Linked DNA regions of Homo sapiens: region 1 is linked to region 2. The links come from fine-mapping of genetic effects on gene expression. Tissue or cell type: whole blood. Region 2 holds a variant in brackets; the other region holds the start of a gene. All regions are shown on one strand. Distances are between the middles of the regions.

The links. PIP is the estimated chance that this variant, and not a neighbour inherited with it, causes the effect.
Region 1: TMEM254 starts here. The variant in region 2 is fine-mapped to the expression of TMEM254 in whole blood (TOPMed, PIP above 0.99). The same link has a PIP of 0.9 or more in spleen and thyroid.

Annotation. Positions count from the first base shown.
Region 1 is chr10:80,072,993-80,083,680 of GRCh38, forward strand. It overlaps TMEM254 (transmembrane protein 254), which reads left to right and starts at 5,673. Exons shown (of 4, transcript NM_025125.4): 1 at 5,673-5,794; 2 at 8,849-8,952; 3 at 9,153-9,212. The coding sequence starts at 5,708. It overlaps TMEM254-AS1 (TMEM254 antisense RNA 1), which reads right to left and starts at 6,201. Exons shown (of 4, transcript NR_027432.1): 1 at 5,735-6,201.
Region 2 is chr10:80,049,803-80,060,490 of GRCh38, forward strand. TMEM254-AS1 (TMEM254 antisense RNA 1) reads right to left here. Exons shown (of 4, transcript NR_027432.1): 3 at 3,594-3,784. Among named protein-coding and RNA genes, the nearest start is that of TMEM254, 24 kb to the right of the region's middle. The variant G/A (reference allele first, on the strand shown) is at 3,849.

The DNA of each region.
Region 1 (10,688 bases), 23 kb after region 2:
GAAGAAAGTCCATTCAGATAGTTAGGGGGGGGCCTTAGAATATTATTTTTGGTTTATATTCATATTTCCAGAGCCTAGCACCATAACTGACACTACACTGGTCTTCAGAAATTAAATTTTATTACTATTTTATTTTATTTTATTATTTTTGAGATGGAGTCTTGCTTTGTCACCAGGCTGGAGTGCAGTGACGCAATCTTGGCTCACTGCAACCTGTGCCTCCCGGGTTCAAGTGATTCTCCCGCCTCAGCCTCCTGAGTAGCTGGGACTACAGGCACGCGCCACCACACCCAGCTAATTTTTGTATTTTTAGTAGAGGCGGGGTTTCACCACATTGGCCAGGATGGTCTCCATCTCTTGACCTCATGATCCGCCCGCCTCAGCCTCCCAAAGTCCTGGGATTACAGGCGTGAGCCACCGCGCCCAGCCGGTCTTCAGAAATATTTCTTGACTATTTGAGTGAATGATTCCTTGGTTTCCCTACCTAAAAAATGTAGCATTTTCCTTCTCCATTCTCATTATACTGTTTCAATAATTTTTCTTCTTCTCCTCCTTCCTTCCTTCCAATTTTACCTCCATCCAATGTACACAAGATATGTTCACTCCACTAGTTAAAACAAACAGAGCAGGTATGGTTGCTCATGCCTGTAATCCCAGCATTTTGGGAGGCCAAGGTGGGAGGATAGCTTGCGCTCAGGAGTTCAAAACCAGCCTGGGCTACATAGCGAGACCCTATCTCTATTAAAAATAATAATAATAATAATAATAATAATAATAATAATAATAATTAGCTCAGCATGGTGGCCCAAGCCTGACCTGTAGTCCCAGCAGTTTGGGAGGCTGAGGCAGGAGGATCACTTGAGCCCAGGAGTTCAAGACCAGCTGGGCAACATAGGGAGACTCGTCTCTACAAATAATAAATACATTAATTAAATAAAACAAACAGAATTTCACTGACTCACCTTGGCTAAGGGATCAAATCAAAACCCCTCGGTTTGATACCAAATGCCATTCATGATCAGGACTCCACCTGTCTTTGCAGCCTCAACTTCCTTCACTCAATTTCTTCACATTGTTTTTTTCTAGCAACAAAAAATTTCTCCTAATTCCCTGGACACACAATATTCTATTCAAATTTCTGTAAATTTGTTTAGGTCGCCCTTCCCCCATCCTATAATCCTGGGAAGGTGTGGGAGTTTTTTGCTGTATCTCAGCACTTGTCCATCCTATAGCCACCTCATCATAACTCCCCAAGGAGGACTACTTATTAATACCTCTGTATCTCTTGATACTGCATCATTTGTGTATTTGTGTTTGGGAGTGGACAGTATTATTTAAAATATTTTTTCTGGAATAGATAACTAATTGCCCCAAAATAATTTACTGAATAATCCATTATTCCTTCCTTAATTTGAAATGTTACCTTTATTATAAAATAAACGCTTGGATATGTATATACCAGATCCATGTCTGGAGTCTGCATTATTTTTTCATTGATCCATTTGTTGATTTCTGCATGTCAAGTGCCAAATGTTTTACATTATTATAGCTCTTTACAGTGTGTCTTGATATCTAGTAGGCCAATCTTATGAGGAAAAACAATGTTATTTTTGCTTTATTTTGCGTATCCCATAGGGCCATTAAGATTGAACCATCCTTTCATTTTGCTTGGTCTCAAGTTTTCTCTTTTGAGGATGCCCAATTCATATCCTTTAATCATTTGTCAATTACATATATTGGAGAATTCCTTCTTCCAGGTATTTCAACTTTATTTACAGTGTCATTCATATGAATGAAGCTTTTCATCTGGATGCAGTTAAATTTTCAATCTTTCCTTCTATGGCTTTTAATTTTAATAACTTGCTAAAAGGTTTCCTTCCCCTCCCTCAAAAGTTGTAAAACTATTCTCCCAGACTTTCTTCATTATTTTTCATATTTAGGTCACTAATCCATCTAGACAGGGGGATAAAAATGTCCAGGGATGAGATATTTCTCTGCCAATTCAGATGGGACAGCAGTGTAGGGTGCCTGGACCTTAGAGAATTCAGTCACCCCTGCCGTGTGTGAAGGGTGACTGTAATGAAGAAAGGAATGCCTTCTGAACATCCAGTTGACTGTAAGTTCTTCATGAATTTACATAAACTACTCACATCTGAACAAAGATCTTCTGGTACTGTCTTCTGGATTCCTTATCTGTGCGTGAGGGGCTAACAGTAAGATGTTTAGTGTTGAGCTGTTGGTGGCCAGGTACAGCCTCTAACTATAATCCCAGCACTTTGGGAGGCTGAGGTGGAAGGATTACTTAAGGCTGGGAGTTTGAGATCTGCCTGGGCAACATAGTGAAGCACCGTCTCTATTAAAAAAAAAAAAAATAGTGTGGAGTTGGAAGACATAGGACACTAAGTAACAGGCTGGGCTCCAAGCAGGGTTGTAGAAGACATGAAACTAAAACCTAGCTCCCTGTAGTCTGTTGACTGAAGCCATTTTGCCTCTCCAACATTTCTTGTAGCATGAATAATTTCTCCAATATCTCCCTCGTTGCAGATTTAATACCTAAATAGAAATACTGAAAAACGGCAGCCTAAAATTGGGGAAGTTCTTGAAACTTTTGGTAAGGTAGGCTGGGTATGGTGGCTCACACCTGTAATCTCAGCACTTGGGGAAGCCAAGGCAGGTGGATCACCTGAGGTCAGGAGTTTGAGACCAGCCTGGTCAACATGGCGAAACCCCATCTCTACTAAAAATACAAAAAATTAGCTGGGTGTGGTGGCATGTGACTGTAGTCCCAGCTACTAGAGAGAGTGTGGCAGGAGAATCACTTGAACCCAGAAGGCCAAGGTTGCAGTGAGCTGAGATTGCGCCATTGCACTACAATCTGAGCAATAGAGTGAGACTCTGTCTCAAAAAAAAAAAAAAGTTTTGGTATGGTAAAGGCTTGATCAGAACTGTACTTGAAAAAGATGATCCTGTTATTTGTCAGACAGATTCAATAAAGGGACTGCATGTGGGCTGAAGTGGCAGGAAGTAGGAAGGAGTGACTGACTCATGAGACAGTGGAGATGAAGCCATGATTTAATCTAGAAGGATTAGATATTGTATTACCCAATCAGTAGAACTCTTGACAGCTGATTAGTCTGCAATCTTTATATGATATGGGGGAAGTCAAAGCAAGGAATCTGGGTACAAGGTAGAAAGAAAGTGCTGTTCACATAGAGTAGGCCGGGCGAGGTGGCTCATACTTGTAATCCCAACACTTTGGGAGGCCGAGGCAGGCAGATCACCTGAGGTCAGGAGTTCGAGACCAGCCTGGCCAACATGGTGAAACCCCGTCTCCACAATTAGCCAAGCGTGGTGGTGCACACCTGTAATCCAAGCTACTCAGGAGGCTGAGACAGGGGAATCACTTGAAGTGGGGAGGCAGAGGTTGCAGTGAGCCGAGATCGCAACACTGCACTCCAGCCTGGGCAACAAGAGCAAAACTCCATCTCAAAAAAAAAAAAAAAAAAAAAAAAAACCACAGACAGGGTAGCCTTGGTGAGGATGGACTCTGTGGATAATGATAATGGACTTCTTGTCTTTGAGGTGTGAGTAATCTTTGGTAAAGGTGACCAACTGGGAAGAGGTGAGGGCTGAAGAGATTATTTTAGTCAGCTGAAGGTGAAAATTGAATCTGATAGGTACTGAAAACACAAAGAAGATAATAAGCAAAACTTATTCTAGGAGAGAAGAAAGAAAAGGAAAGCTGAGAAAACAAGGAGTTATTCAGAAGGAGGAGAAGAATAAAGAGGGTGGTGTGATCAAGGATGATAAGGACTAAGAAAACACCAATTGTTACAATTGTTACTGTTAATCTTGATATTCAAGAGCACTGTGGTCTACCTGGGAAATGGATTTCCTCACATATTCTGAAATTCATTCTTTAAGACTTTATATCCCAAGATACTCACGTAAAAAATGAGGAAAGAGAACCTTGGTTGGTTCCAGAGTGCCCTCTCTGGAACTGGAACACTCAGCTGCCAATTGTTTTCCAGTATTCCTCACCCACTTGGGCATGACAGGACCCTGTGCTGTTTCTTCTTCTTTGAAATAAGGACAATAGTTTACTGCCTAGGATTGTTTTAAGAATTAAATTAGTTAATTATTGTATAGTACTTAGAACAATGCCTTGAACATAGTAGGTGTTCAATAAATACCAGCTACAGTATAGTAACTTTTTTTTTTTTTTTTTGACGGAGTCTCACTCTATAGCCCAAGCTGAAGTGCAGTGATTGGATCTCGGCTCACTGCAACCTCCGCCTCCGGTGCTCAAGCAATTCTCGTGCCTCAGCCTCCCAAGTAGTTGGGACTATAGACACGCGCCACCACCCCCAGCTAATTTTTTGTATTTTAGTAGAGACAGGGTTTCACCATGTTCTCCAGGGTGGTCTCGAACTCCTGAGCGATCCACCCACCTCGGCCTCCAAAAGTGCCAGGATTATAGGCTTGAGCCACTGCGCTTGGCCAGTAACCCATTTTTAAGGCCCAGGTGAAATAGTTTTTCTATTTCTATGATTTTCTATTTCTATGATTAAATAGTGTTTAATCAGACACTTCAGCTGCATATACCTCCCACAGCTCATTGATGATACAACAGTTCGCACAGGGCCTGGCACACATGCTAAAGGCTCAGCAGTATTGATAATCACCCACACTTACAAAGCACTATGGGCCAGACACTGCTGTGCTTTCTTTACAGATATCAACTCATTTAACCCACCCTAAAAACCCTGAGGTTCCCAAAACTGGCATATCCTCATGTTACAGATACAGAAACTAAGACACAGCCGGGCTAAGTAATTAATCTAAGCTTACACAAATAGCCGAGACAGAGCCAGGACTTAAATCCAGGCAGCCTGTTTCACAGTCCCTGCTCATAACCATGGTGCTGTATAGTTCCAAACATCTTAACTAATGAGGACAGCATTATTTCTCAAGGTGCACAGCACAGAGAACTTCAAAAATTAGACTCTTAGTAAAACACCATCTTTTTTTTTTTTTTTTGAGACAGGGTCTTGCTGTGTTGCCCAGGCTGGAGTGCAGTGGCGTGATCTGGGCCCACTGCAACCTGCACCTCTCAGGTTCAAGAGAGTCTTGTCTCAGCCTCTGGAGTTGCTGGGACTACAGGCAGGCACCACCGCGCCCAGCAAATTTTTTGTATTTTTAGTACAGACGGGGTTTCACCATGTTGACCACGCTGGTCTCAAACTCCTGACCTCAAGTGATCTGCCCGACTCGGCCTCCCAAATTGCTGGAATTTATTCCAACACCTCATTCATTCATTCATTCATTCGAGACAGAGTCTAGCTATGTTACCCGGGCTGGTCTCAAACTCCTGGGCTCAAGGGATCTTTCTACCTCAGCCTCCCAACGTGCTGAGATTACAGGGACACGCCACCGCGCCAGCCCGAACATCTTTATCTTAAACCCAGAAAAGTGACAGGAGTGTCTCCCCTACAAGATGATGACCAGCCCTCCAGACCTGAGCCCAGGTGTGATTCCAAGGCCCCTGTACTGGGGCCAGACAGGGAGACTCGCTCTCAGGGACTTCCCAACCAGCACCATCTTCTCCCTGCGGGGATGGCGAGGGAGCGCGGGCCGGCCCCGGCCCTGCCTCCGCGCTCGCGCTCGACGGTGTCCTGAAGCGCGCTCCCGGGGAGGTGTTGCAGCCATGGCTACGGCAGCCGGCGCGACCTACTTTCAGCGAGGCAGTCTGTTCTGGTTCACAGTCATCACCCTCAGCTTTGGCTACTACACAGTAAGGACAGCCGCTGGAGCGCTACGGTCTGACGAACGAGCGAGCGCTCGGTTCACCCCAGGACCTGGGCTCACAGGCCGCGGGCCGGGGGAAGTCGTGCAAGCACAATCCCGACTCCCGCGCGCTAGGAGCGGAGGGGAGGGGACCAGACTCCGCAATGAGAGCAAGCATACTGGTCCGCCAGGGTCTTGGGCGGGCGCCCAGGGCCCTGAGAAACCGGCTAGCCAGGCTTTTCTTATATGGGGGCGGGGACGGCTGGGGAGCTCCCAGCCAACTCTGTGTCTGGGTTTTTCAAGAGGATGGTGAAGTCGGAGGCCAGCAATGCGGCTACCGCCTATTTCCGTCCAGCAAGACCCTTGCCCTCTCTGGTCACAGTCCTGGGGCTGGGCTACTTCGCGGTGAGGCGTGGGGTGGGGCGGGGCGGGCCTCTGTTTTGGCCCGCCGGGCCCTCGTAGGGCGAGGGGAGCTCTGGGAACGGGGCCTGTGCGCACGCGCATCTGACGGTTGTCTCGGTTACTCATGTAAGCGGAAATTCGGTGGGCTCTTAGGATAGTTTCTGCTTTCTAGTGTTCCTGTCTTTGGGTCCTCACCTCTGCATGGTTACTAACGGGTTATCCGAGCCTAAGCCTCTCACGAAGCGGAAAGTCAAGTTAACAGACTGCCATAGGCCTGCCAAGTCAGAATAGGGCTTCCGAAGCAGAATGTTTGAGCCAATAGGAATTGTTTGGAAAACGGGGATAAATCTAAAGGATGGGTAGGATTTAAGTGGTAAGGGAGGATAAAGAGGCTATAACTGTTCTGACATAGGTGTGGAAGCAAGAAGAAAGCTGTACCTAGAAAAAGAGCGACGTTTGTTTGGCTGAGAAATAATCTGTTTAAAGGATAACGAGAAAGATGCGTGGAAAAGTAGGTTGGGGGCTAAGGTGGTAGTTTTGTGTTTTTTTGAGACGGAGTCTCGCTCTGTCACCCAGGCTGGAGTGCAGTGGGGCGATCTCGGCTCACTGCAACCTCTGCTTCCCAGGTTCAAGCGATTCTCATGTCTTTACCTGTAGCTGGGATTACACTATGCCCAGCTATTTTTTTGTGTTTTTAGTAGACATGGGTATTGGTGAGGCTGGCCTCGAACTCCTAACGTCAAGTGATAAGGTGGTAAAATTTTGAAGGAAGGCGAAGCTATTTGGGTATACCAATAGATCCTGGAGATTGGAGATTTGTCTTGTCCACAGTGTTGTTTGTTGGTGTCAAATCTGACAACCTATGTCCTGATTTCCCCATATGTACAATGGAGGTGTTGAACTGAAAATTTTCAAAGGTGCATTTCTGTTCTACGATTTAGTGTCTGTGACTAGTTAGAATATAGTTGGAGGAAAGCTTTGGGGACTTCAAATTGGGATCTTGTGGAGCTGGCAGATGCTCCCCTTTCCCTTTGGTTTGGGAGGATGCAGTGATATTTGTGCATTATTTAACTTTCAGATGTGAAACAACATCGTGAGAGAGGTAGTACTGCTCTTGACAAAGATTTGAATGGGACAATACATTTTGAAACTGTTGAGTTATTCTCAGAAAAGTCTTAGCTGACAGAAGTTACAATACAGAGGCTGAAAGTTAAGATTACGAAAAATTTATGTGATTAAGCAGTTGCTATTAAAATGTCACAACCTTATCTCACTTATTTTCCATCTCTATGCAGTGGATCATTCTCAGTTTTAGCCGTACAAAAAGGGAAAGCCGAGAAAGGAATTCTAAATTAAACAGAGGTTTGGCTGGAGCCAGTTTCTGCAGTAAAGAAACTAGCCAAAGCACATAAACTCAAAATTTGCTAATATCTTTTATAAAATAATGGTTTTGGTGGAATGTATTAATAGGAGTCAGCCAGGCATGGTGGTTCACCCCTGTAATCCCAGCACTTTGGGAGGCCGAGGCGGGCAAATCGCTTGAGCCCAGGAGTTCGAGACCATCCTGGGCAACATGGCAAAACCTCATCTCTACACACACACACACACACAAAATTAGCCATGGGCAGTGGCTCACACCTGTAATCCCAGCACTTTGAGAAGCCGAGAAGGGCGGATCACCTGATGTCAGGAGTTGGAGATCAGCCTGGCCAACATGGTGAAACTCTGTCTGTATTAAAAATACAAAAATTAGCTGGGCGTGGTGGCATGCACCTGTAGTCCCAGCTACTCTGGAGGCTGAGACAGGAGAGTCGTTTGAATCCGCGAGGCGGAGGTTACAGAGAGCCGAGATCGTGCCACTGCACTCCAGCCTAAGCGACAGAGTGAAACTCCATCTAAAATAAATAAATAAATAAATAAATTAGTCAGTCGTGGTAGCCATGCCTGTATTCCAGCTACTTGGGGAAGCTGAGTTGGGAGGATCGCTTGAGCCCGGGAAGTCAAGGGTGCAGTGAGCCGTGATCAGGCCACTGCACTCAAGCCTGGGTGACAAAGCGAGATCCCTTCTCTACAAAGAAAACAAAAGAAGAAAAGGAAGAAAAAAAGACTTTAAGAGTCATCCACCGTGGGCACTGAGTCTGATAACCACATACTTTCCTCAGCATAAGTCTCCCAGTAGAGTTGCTTTTAGAAAATAGAAGTCATCCTGGCACAGTAGGTCATGCCTGTAATCCCAGCACTTTGGGAGGCCAAGATTGGAGAATTGCTTGAGCCCTGGAGTTGGAAACCATCCTGGGCAACATAGTGAGACCCCATCTCTATATACAATTTTTAAAAGTAGCTGGGCATGGTGGCACACACGTGTAGTCCCATCTACTTGGGAGGCTGAGGTGGGAGGATGGATTGAGCCCAGATGGTGGAGGCTGCAGTGAGTCATGATCATGCCACTGCACTCCAGCCCCAGCAGCGGAGTGAGACCCTGTCAAAAAAAAAAGAAAGAAAGAAAATAGAAGCCAAGAATGGAGACCCAAATGACTGTTCAGAGTTTCTTCGGTCTGTGGTAATTTTTTTACTGTTTCACAGCCTTTCTCAAAAACAAAAACAAAAAACAGGTTTTAAGTGACCTAATAGGTATTCTGTGTCTCTGCTTCTCTTTCAGTGGGTTGTCTTCTGGCCTCAGAGTATCCCTTATCAGAACCTTGGGCCCCTGGGCCCCTTCACTCAGTACTTGGTGGACCACCATCACACCCTCCTGTGCAATGGGTAAGGAGAGCTGCACAAGTGGACTGTGGACACTGGAGCTCTGGTCTCATGGGAAACCTGGAAGGCCTGCAGCTGCCTTTTGGTATCTAAGAGTAGTGTCGGTTCACCTTAAGGCACTTTTCTTTTTGAGATTGCTGTGTTAGATTTCATCAGCAGATAACTATCACCTTAAAAAAGATTAACCTTTTTTTTGGTTTCAGGTATTGGCTTGCCTGGCTGATTCATGTGGGAGAGTCCTTGTATGCCATAGTATTGTGCAAGTAAGTCTTTGAAGTAGGTGTTTGTTGCCTTTCTCTTAGTAGCTAATATAAATTGAGAGCAGCCACATTTAAATAGTTCACACACTTGTAGGCTGAGAATATTCTCAGGGTAGAGCGGAATCCCCATGCCTGATACTGAGCCTGGAGCAGAGGCAGTACCCAGTAAATGTTTGATGAATGCATTCATTTTGTTTATGTTGGTTAACCAATTACTTAGTTATCTAATTCAGATGACTTTTGTTATTTTTTAACAAATTTTCTGGGTAGCCCCAACTAGATCAAAAGACTAGGAATAGGAGCCTGGCTTCTAGTTTACAAAAGAGCTAAGTGACTGACCTAGGCCGATGACTCACAATCCTCGTTTTACAATTGAGCCACCTGAGGAGCTTTTTCAAAATACACACGTCTGGTTTCCAGACCCAGAGATTCTGATTGGGTAAGTCTTGCCTCAGAGATAGGAATGTGCTCTTTTTAAAAGCTCCACAGATAATTCTAGGATGCAATGCTAGTTAAAAGCCCCCAAACCAGACCCCACTCAGGAGATGCTAGTATAGGTTAATGCTATGTGAGAATACAAGAAAAAATTATGTTTGTACTTTATATAAGCATATACAGAAAGTATGGTACAATGAAAAACATGGTTATGGAAATGCCAAATTGCTTCTTTCCAATTAATTTCTGGTCAAGATAATAATTAATTGAATTAATTTCTGGTCAAGATATACTATCACCTCTATTATTTTTCTATTCTAAAAGTGGAAAATAAGATACTGTATTGCTATTACTATGTTTCAATAATAAAAATAATATTGATTGGGTACTGCTATGTCAGAGACTGCTAAGTATGTTAAATAGAATGATCTTACTCTGTTTTCTTGTTTATTAAACAAATAAGCTAGACTTTTTTTTTTTTTTTTTTTGAGAGGGAATCTTGCTTTGTCACCCAGGCTGGAGTGCAGTGGCGCAATCTTGGCTCCCTGCAATCTCTACGTCCTGGGTTAAAACGATTCTGCCTCAGCTTCCCCAGTAGCTAGGATTACAGAAGCCCACCACCATGCCTGGCTAATTTTTGTATTTTTATTAGAGACGGGGTTTCACCATGTTGGCCATGCTAGTCCCGAACTCCTGACCTCTCAGGTGATCCGCCTGCCTTCGCCTCCCAAAGTGCTGGGATTATAGGCATGAGCCACTGTGCCTGGCCACAAGCTAGACTTTCTATGAAGAGGAGCAGAAAGTAACTTTATTCTTTCTTTCTCACCCCTCTCCAAGTAAATTTGTTTTGTAGATCGTTCCCCACCTTCCACCGTATCTCTGGATGGAATTTCAAACAGATCGTAGGATTTCCAGTCACCATCTGATATTATCTATTCTAGCCCAGTCTATTGTTAAAACTATAAACTTTCTTCTAATTCAAAATGTCTGTTTTCATCCAGCTGGGGCTCAGGAGCCTGCAGTGGGGAGAAGGGTGCAGTTGAT
Region 2 (10,688 bases):
GGCTGAGGGAGGAGAATTGCTTGAACCCAGGAGGGGGAGGTTGCAGTGAGATGAGATTGTGCCACTGCACTCTGGCATGGGTTACAGAGCAAGACTTTATCTAAAAAAAAAAAAAAAAAAAGGAACAAGCAAGAGTTTGTAATAACCTGGCAAGGCATCTTACACGTGACTCTAAGCATTCCATTTGACACCTCTAGTCTTCATTTTTTTCCCTCCTCCACAAAGAGAGGATAATTACACCTGCCAACCATAATCCCTAGGGGTTTAGGGGAGGGAGAAATGATCAACACTGTTTTAGACTCTCCATCCTAATAAGCTCTGTTGTGGTACCGCACCTAGAGCCCTACCATGCAGGTAAGGATGTCTGGGGGCCTTTTAATATTTGATCCCTCCAGGAACCCCTCTGTCTGCAAGTTCAGAATTGCTTTAGGTTAATAGCGCTTAAAGCTAGAAAGATGTCTGATCCACACCTATAATGACTGCTTAAAACAAAGTTGTGGGCCAGGCGCGGTGGCTCACCCCTGTGATCCTAGCACTTTGGGAGGCTGAGGTGGGTGGATCACCTGACATCAGGAGTTCGAGACCAGCCTAGCCAGCATGGGGAAACCTCATCTCTACTAAAAATACAAAAATTAGCTGGGCATCATGGCGCATGCCTGTAATCTCAGCTACTCAGGAGGCTGAGGGAGGAGAATCCCTTGAACGCAGGGGGCAGAAGCTGCAGTGAGCTGAGATTGTGCCACTACACTCCAGCCTGGGCAACAGAGTGAGACGCCATCTCAAAATAAATAAATAATAAACAAATAAATAAAATTGTGACCATGCACAATGAACCTGGCACCTCCAGATATACTCATTTTCTTCTCACAACACCATCACAACATAATTATACATATTTTACAAAAAGATAAGGTGCAAGAGTCAACTTGCACCTTATAAGTCAACTTGCACCTCTATAAGTCAGATGTTATAGAGCCATTAGGAGGTAGATCTCATGAGGACCCAACCAAAAGACAAGACCTCACTCTCTCATGACAGAGCCTCCTGTGGCCCTCCCCTCAAACATGCTTGCTTCCTGATCACATCATGGGCACTTTCTTTAAGCACATGCAGGCCAGTTCAATTCAGTGTAATTTGATTAGCCGTTATCTATGAACTTCCTTTTAGGAATCTATCCCTCTGACAAGTAGAAAGGATAAAACATAATTAAAAAGCACTTTTGACCATGAGCAACCCAACTGTCACAAAGTTAGAAATGTAAATAAATGAACAGTATAAGAACGTTCATTTAAATGTTTGACCAAGCCCAGGCGCAATGGCTCATGCTGTAATCCCAGCACTTTGGGAGGCTGAGGCAGGAGGATTGCTTGAACCCAGGAGTTTGAGCCCAGGCTAGGCCATATGGCAAAACCCCATCTCTACATTAAAAAAAAAAAAAAATTAACCAGGCATCATGTCCTGTGGTCCCAGCCACTCAGGAGGCTGAGGTGGGATCACTTAAGCCCAGGGAGTCGATGCTGCAGTCAACCACAATTGCGCCACTGAAATCCAGCCTGGGCAACGGAGTGAGACCCTGTCACTTAAAAAAAAAAAAAAAGAAATCGATCAGTCCTTCCATTTCTATCCTGGTTATTTACTTTATTTGGATTTTCTACTTATTTGCAGGAAAGCATTTGTTTGTATTTCCCTTGAAATGTTCTCACTTCATGAAGCTTTTTTTTTTTTTTTTTTTGTGATGGAGTCTCCCTCTGTCACCCAGGCTGGAGTGCGGTGGCATCATCTCAGCTCACTGCAACCTCTGTCTCCAAGGTTCAAGCGATTCTCCTGCCTCAGCCTCCTGAATAGCTGGGATTACAGGTGTCTGCCACCACTCCCAGCTAATTTTTGTATTTTTGTAGAGATGGGTTTTTGCCATGTTGGCCAGGCTGGTCTTGAACTCCTAACCTCAGGTGATCCACTCACCTCGGCCTCCCAAAGTGCTGGGATTACAGGCATGAGCCACCATGCCTGGCCTACTTCACGAAACTTTTATAAAAATTTCATTACACAATATTTGCCTATACTTTTCCTTTATTCTCCAAAGTTGCTTATATTCTTTGTTTTCACTAACACAATTTTGTCCTTCTGTCAAGCAACCAATATATTCAATAGTCAAAGGATAATCACAGATGAGAAATATGAAAGTCTCCTTAAATGTGTATATATAATCTGTCAGGGGATTAGAGAATATATTGTATGTGTAAATAATATAAATTCAAATACAATAAGATGTTGTGCTTTAACAATTTACAATGATCATATCAGAAAATCACCAAACAAAATATTAGTTCGTGCAATAAATGGTTATGAAGCAACTACTGATGCTGTGGGGTTCTGTGCCAAGTCCCGTGACACTATCAAGCCAAGTTCTTCCTCCTGCACTTCAGACTTGCATGCCTAACTTTTTACTTACTCCTTGGAGTAAGTAAACTCTTAGAAGTTTAATTGGCACACCAAACTTAACGTGTGCAAAGTAAAACTCCAAATGTCTGACACAAAAGTGCTCTTCTCCCAAGCTCCCCTGTTAGTTAAAGGCATCTCCAATCTTCCATGTCAAGCCAAAACTTTGGAGCTATCCTTACCTCTGGCATCCCCAATAACTCAGCAAACTATAAGCCGCTCCACCTTTAAAAATTAAAGGTCTTCCCAGTTCTCTAATTCCACAGCCAGCACCCTTGTCAAAACCATCACTGTCTCTATCCTGGAAAATTACAATAATAGCTTTTTCTTTTTTTTGAAACAGAGTATCGCTCTGTCGTCCAGGCTGGAGTGCAGTGGCGTGATGTTGCCTCACTGCAACCTCCACCTCCTGAGTTTAAGAAATTCTCCTACCTCAGCCTCCTGAGTAACTGTGATTACAGGCGCGTGCCACCATGCCCGGCTAATTTTTATATTTTTGGTAGAGACAGGGTTTCACCATGTTGGCCAGGCTGGTCTTGAACTCCTGACCTCAGGTGATCCGCTCACCGCAGCCTCCCAAGGTGCTGGGATTATAGGCATGAGCCACCGCAGCCAGCCTACAGTAGCTTCTTAACACTGCTCCCAAATTTGCCTCACAATAGTCTATTTTCCATAAAATGCATATATAATATATTCACACCCACATTGAGATGAACAACAACCAAAAAAAAAAAATCAAATTTTTTTTTTTTTTTTTTTGAGAATCTCACTGTTGCCCAGGCTGGAGTGTAGTGGTGCCATCTTGGCCCTGTGCAACCTCTGCCTCTGAGGTTCAGGCAATGCTCCTGCCTCAGCCTCCCAAGTAGCTGGGACTACAGGCACGTGCCAACCTGCCTGGCTAATTTTTGTATTTTTGGTAGAGATGGGGTGTTGCCATGTTGGCCAGGCTGGTCTCGAACTCCTGGCCTCAAGTGATCTGCCCGCCTCAGCCTCCCTAAGTGCTGGGATTACAGGCATGAGCCACTGCGCCCAGCCTAAAAAAATCACTTTGTGCTATGTGATAAAATGCTATTAAACTTTTTCATGCTTCTTTACATTTTCCACATTATCTATAAAAAGACATACCCATGCAAAGCTTTTAATATTTTACTTACATCAATTACAAACACAGGACAAGAGACTGTCCAGCCAGTTTTTCCCTGGTTGTAAAATTAGGATAAGGATTCTGTGCAAATGACTGCTGAAGTACACTCAGCTTATCCTTGGCAAATTTAAGCCACGGTTTTACACTTCCTCTTCCCCATCTTCTTGTTCTTACTTCATTATGACTGGTTAATGGGAGATCCTGAAAAATGTACAAACAGAAAGAGAAAAGCATTGGAGAATACTAGTAATATCCAGAGTGGGGG[G/A]AAAAAAAAGGTCAATCATTGGCTATTTCATAAAATTTTTAAAAAGTGGAGCCCAATCTCATACCTGTACATAATAATAAAGTTACTAATGAGATTAGCCAAGTGTAGTGACTCAGGCCTGTAATCCCATTGACTCAGGAGGCTAAGATGGGAGGACTGCTTGAGGCCAGGAGTTCAAGGATCAGCTTAGGCAACATAGCAAGACCCCATCTCTAAAAAAATAGAAGTTCAAGGCTGCAGTGAGTCATGATTGTGCCACTGCACTCTAGCCTGGGCATCTGAGCAAGGCCCTGGCAAAAAAAAAGAGGTAAAATAAAAATTTTTAAAAATTAGCTGGGCTTGGTGGCACATGCCTGTTAACCTAGCTGCTTGGGAGGCTGAGGTGGGAGGATCATTTGAGCAAGCCCAGGAGGTCAAGGCTACATTGAGCCATGATCACACCACTGCACTCCAGCCTGGCTGACAGAGTGAGACCCTGTCTCAAAAAAAATTTTTTTTTAATTAAGATACAAAGCTATCCTGTGTTCCTGGATTAGAAGAACTAATATTGTTAAGATGGCTCTACTACCCAAAGTGATCTATATCTTTAATGCAATTCCTATTTTTAAAATCCCAGACATGTTTTGCAGAATAGGAAATTTCATCCTAAAATGTATGTGGAATCTCAAGGTATCCACAATAGACAAAACAATCTTTAAAAAGGAGAACAGAGTTGAAGGTCTCACACCTCCTGATTCCAAAACTTACTACAAACCTATGATGAAACAATGTGGTACTAGTGGATGTACAAGTGTAAATATATTCTGTAGATATTTTCTTGAGGTTACCATTGCAATTATAGTTTGGTACTAGCACAAAGGCAGGCATATAGACTGGTGGGATAGACTAGAGAGCTCAGAAATAAATCCTCACAAACATGGTCAAATGATTCACAAGGGTGTCAAGACCATTCACTGGGGAAAGGACATTCTTTTCAACAAACAGGGCTGTGGGAAACTGGGTATCCACATGCAAAATAATCAAGTTGGGGCCGGGTGCAGTGGCTGATGCCTGTAATCCCAGCACTTTGGGAGGCCAAGGGGGCGGATCACGAGGTCAGGAGATCGAGACCATCCTGGCTAACACGGTGAAACCCCGTCTCTACTAAAAAATACAAAAAATTAGCAGGACGTGGTGGCAGGCACCTGTAGTCCCAGCTACTCAGGAGGTTGAGGCAGGAGAATGGCGTCAACCCAGGAGGGGGAGGTTGCAGTGAGACGAGATCTCACCACTGCACTCCAGCCTGGTCAACAGAGTGAGACTCCATCTTAAAAAAAAAAAAAAAAGAAACTACAACCCAACAACAAAGAAAAAAAAACCTGATTTTAAAATGGGCAAAGGACTTGAACAGATATCCCTCCCAAAAAGGTATATGAATGGCCATTAAGCACATTAAAAATGTTCACCATCAATAATCATTAGGGAAATGAAAAAAAAAAATCAAATCCACAGTGACACATCATCTCACCCCCCATCTCACCCCATTAGGATAGGATGGCTACTGTCAAAAACAAAAAAAAAACCCAGTAAGAGTTGTCAAGGATGTGAAGAAATGTAAAATGGTGTGGCCACATGAAAAACAGTATGGTGGGCCAGGCGTGGTGGCTCATGCTTGTAATCCCAGCACTTTGGGAGGCCGAGGTGGATGGATCACCTAAGGTCAGGAGTTCGAGACCAGCCTGGCCAACATGGCAAAACCCCATCTCTACTAAAAATACAAAATTAGCCGGGCATGGTGGTGTGCACCAGTAATCCCAGCTACTCAGGAGGCCAAGGCAGGAGAATCCCTTGAACCTGGGAGGCAGAGGTTGCAGTGAGCCAAGATCACACCACTGCACTCCAGCTTGGGTGACAGAGTGAGACTCTGTCTAAAAAAAAAAAAAAAGAAAAAGAAAAAACATTATGGTGGTTTCTCAAAAAATTAAATATTATTATATGATTCAGCAATTCCACTTTTGGGTAAATACCCACAATCATTGAAAGCATGGACTTGAACAGCAATTTGTACACTTATGTTCATAGGAGCATATTGTTCCCAATGCCATGACCCAATATAAAAACTTCCCAACATTTCTAAAAAGCAAATGTGCACACGTAACACTTGTAAAAAACATAAGTTTTTTACGATAAACACTCAGTTCCTATAGTAAAAACAGCAACCAAACCAACTTGCTTTGTATGGCCATAGACCCACAGTGAGGAGCAGGACCTCTGGAGCCTGCCTGCCAGTGATTAAATCCTGGCTCTGAGACTGACAGGCCACAGTGTAGCACTGACTGCCAGTGCCCTCCTGGGCTACTCTTCTTGTCTCTGGCTGCTCTCCAGGCCCTGGGATGGAGGCCATTCCTATGGCATCTTCTTGGAGGACTTCATGTTCTAAAGGCATCACAGTTGAGCCATGATTGCTTCCAGGGCTCTTTGATGCAGATTCTTGCCTCTGAAATATAGTGATGAGCCCAGTGGACTTCTGGGCCCACTGTATATTATCGGGGCACCTTTGACTTAGGTTATTACTCATTAAACACAACGTATTAAGATACAAGGCACCGCTGGAACTAACCGGAGACTTCTCTCAACCAGGGCTCATCTAGAAAAAGAAATCCAGAATCCCCATACTTTGCAAGCCCACCTTCCCAGAGAACAGGAGTGTCAGTTTCTTCCATATCCCAGGTTTGAAAAGCTCCAAATTATTTCTGAATTTCATGAAATATCAAATCTGTGAACAAAAGGGAAAAAAATGCCTAGGGCCATTTCTACAATTCTTCCAGTATAGCTCTTTTGCTTTGAGGACGTTTTTGTTTTCAGTATTCACCCTGTTTACATTTAACCATACAGGAAAGTAGACGGAAGCGTATAATTAGCCTGATGATCTTATCACTGAAATTTAATATATAGCAATACCTGGCCAATTTTATCTCCTTGACACCCCACCCTCATTATTTTGAAGTGAATCTCAGACATGTCATTCACCCGAAAATACATCCATATGTATCTCTAAAATATAAAGTCTCTCTTAATGCTATGATGGGTTAAGATTTAAATACCTGAGCCTCTAGTAAAATCCTATACCCAATTCTACCATACGGCAACCACACACAATTACTCTGATGAAATCAGCTGTTCCCAGCCTACAAGCTTGAACTTTTGAAAGGTGAAAGTCAGGCCTAGCAGGGTGGCTCATGCCTGTAATCCCAGCACTTTGTGAGGCTGAGGTGAGCAGATTGCTTTGAGTTCAGGAGTTTGAGACCAGCCTGGGCAACATAGCAAAACCCTGTCTCTACAAAAAAACCAAAATTAGCCAGGTGTGGTGGTGCATGCCTGTGGTCCCAGCTACTTGGGAGGCTGAGGCTGGAGAATATAGCTTTGAGTCCAGGAGGCAGAGGTTGCAGTGAGCCAAGATTCCCCAACTCCAGCCGGGGCAACTGAGTAAGACCCTGTCTCAAAAGAAAAAAAAAAAAGTGAAAGCCCAAACACCTATTAATACAAAACACTAATGCATTAGGTAAGGAGCCTCCTGCAAAAGAAACACGCTTTGGTGTCCACCACAGAAACTCACCGTTGGAAGTTCAGATGAATCTCTAGTCCAGGTTCTGAATGATAAAGTGATTAACTCTGAAGCAGCAATCATCAAACATAACCCTGAGACGCCCTCCCTCACACACCCTAGACACAGCCCCGCCCCAGACACAGCCCCACCCTAGGCACAGCCTTGCCCTAGACACACCTCTTGATGGCTTTACCTAACTTTTCAAATCCCATTCACTCAATGAGCACCCAGTGAAAACAATTTGCTTATTTAATCCCTACAACACCCTTATAATGTGCATCCTATTTTAATCCTACTTAGACTTGAAGACAGGGGGACAGAAAGGTTTAGAGCACAGAGTGAGCCTCTGACCCAGGCAGTCTGACCTTGAACCTCCTGCCTGTGGCCATCACTTTCACATTTATAGACTGCACGCTCTGTGAGGACGGAAGCCTTGTCAGGCTCACAGAAGATCCACATCACCTGATATATCATTGCTTACAGAATACTGAGATTGGAGGCAGGAGTGACCAGAGATTAACACTGAATAAGGACATTCTAAGATATAAAACTAATGTTTTATAAACATTAAACCATTTGCTAATTCATCTTATTCTAAAAACTACCCTATGAGATACCAAAACCTCCATATTACAGACAAGGAAACTGTGGGCTTTTCTGCTTTTTTCACAACTCTAGGACATTGTACTTTCCCAAATGTGTGGAATAAGGTAATAACACTTGGAGGGTTTTTTGTCCTCCAGGTTTGGAAAATGCAGCTCATCCTCGACAAGTGTTTTATATTAATCCATCTTAATTCAGAGTGATACATATATTCTTCGTTCTACTTAAACTAATTGCTACAATTTATGAGGACTCATTATATGGCCGGCCCAAAGAACAGAGTTTTCAGACATTATCTTACCTAAATCTTACAGTGCCTTACGGAGATATATATTATTATACAGATGACTACTGAAGCACAGAGAGATTAGCTAATTTACCTGAGGTCAAACTCTAAGAAGAGGAAAATAACTAGCAGGAATTAAAGCAGGTGAAAATAAAGTTTGAATTGGGCAAGGTAATGGCTGACTTGCAGGAAGGAAACAGCCCCAAATGATTTCGGTTTCTCACTTCATTCCAGGGTGGACCGCGCCTCTGCAACAACAACAACAACAACAGAAAAAAAAAACAGGAAAAAGCAGGAGGAACAACTCGTGGTTTTCTTCATTTCCGCGCAAGGATGGTTAACATAACCTCCTTTCATCCTGGGACTCCAGCAGGTCCTTTCAAGCAGTGCCAGATGCTTTGGGGTAGTTGAAGAAATATTTTGGGAGCTGGAAGTCTTGGAGAATATCAACGACTGAGAGAGTAGAGCAAACCAAAATTAGATTGGGCCTATGCTGAGTTCTTTGGCTTTTTTGTCTTCCCAGTAATTCGGGCCCGCTTTGTGGTTGTTGATTTATTATTTTTTGAGACCGAGTCTTGCTCTGTCACCCAGGCTGGAGTACAGTGGCAGGATCTCGGCACACTGCAAGCTCCGTCTCCCAGGTTCAAGCAATTCTCCTGCCTCAGTCTCGCGAGTAGCTCGGATTACAGGCACGCGCCACCACACCCAGCTAATTTTTGTATTTTTTGTAGACACTAGGTTTACGCAACTTCGCCGAGGCCGGTCTCGAACTCCTGAGCTCAAGTGATCCACCCACATTGGCCTCCCAAACGCTGGGATTACAGGCTTGAGCCACCACGCCCACTCGTGCTTTATTCTCAGTAACCTTGAAATCACACTAGGTGGCGACCTTCCCCGTCCGCCCCCATCAAGCTGCTTCCAAAAACATTTTTACCAGGCACCTTCACTTTCTTTCTTTTCATTCTTTTCTCAACTCCAGTCTCTCTGTTCTCACTGCATTGTTTAGACATCATTGGTAAAAGTTAACAAATCAGGTCCTAAATTGCCCGATCATACGGTTAATCTTCTTTCCTAAGTCATCGAACATTGTTAGCCAATCTTTGTCTTCCTTGAAAGCTCCCCTACTTCAGATTTTTTTTCTTCTTGCTGTTGCCCAGGCTGGAGTGCAGTGGCGCGATCTCGGCTCACTGCAACCTCCGCCTCCCTGGTTCAATCGATTATCCCATCTCAGCCTCCTGAGTAGCTTGGATTACAGGCGCAAGCCACAACGCCCGGCTAATTGTATTTTTAGTAGAAACAGGGCTTCACAATGTTGGCCAGGCTGGTCTCCAACTCTTGACCTCAGGTGATCCGCCCACCTCAGCCTCCCAAAGTGCAGGGTTACTTACAGGTGTGAGATTCTTTCCTTTTTTTTTTTTTTTTTTTTTTTTTTTTTTTTTTTTTGAGACGGAGTATTGTTCTGTTGCCCAGGCTGGAGTGCAGTAGCATGATCTCGGCTCACTGCAACCTCCACCTCCCGGGTTCAAGCAATTCTCCTGCCTCAGCCTCCTGAGTAGCTGGGACTACAGGTGCCCGTCACCACGCCCGGCTAATTTTTTTTTGCATTTTTAATAGAGACGGGGGTTTCACTGTTAGCCAGGATAGTCTCGAACTCCTGACCACGTGATCCAACCACCTCGGCCTCCCAAAGTGGTGGGATTACAGGCGTGAGCCACCACACCCGGCCCTGGCCCAGATTCTTTATCAAGCTCGGCTTTGGTGGATGTCCACTGAGTCCTTAATCCTTTTTCAAAATATCGCGAAACAGTAAGGGCCCAGCTTATACTGAGTGCTATGTATTGAGACCTGCAATGCAGCTGTGAATAGCACAAATGCAGTCTCTGAAAATCAACGTTCTGGTGAACTTTTAAAAATACGTAACTCCTGGCCGGGCGAGGTGGCTCAGGCCTGTAATCCCAGCACTTTGGGAGGCCGAGGCAGGTGGATCACGAGGTCAGGAGATCGAGACCATCCTGGCTAACACGGTGAAACCCCGTCTCTGCTAAAAATACAAAAAATTAGCCGGGCGTGGTGGCGGGCGCCTGTATTCCTAGCTACTTGGGAGGCTGAGGCAGGAGAATGGCGTGAACCCGGGAGGCGGAGCTTGCAGTGAGCTGAGATCCTGCCACTGCACTCCAGCCTGGGCGACAGAGCGAGACTCTGTATCAAAAAACAAAACAAAACAAAACAAAAATATATACATAGCTCCCAATTATCACCTGCAAAGCAAAGTCAGAATGTATTAGAATGCCTGGCAGGGAGTTTCATGACCTAACTACTATTAAACTCCCATTCAGACCAGGAGTGGTGGCTCACATCTGTAATC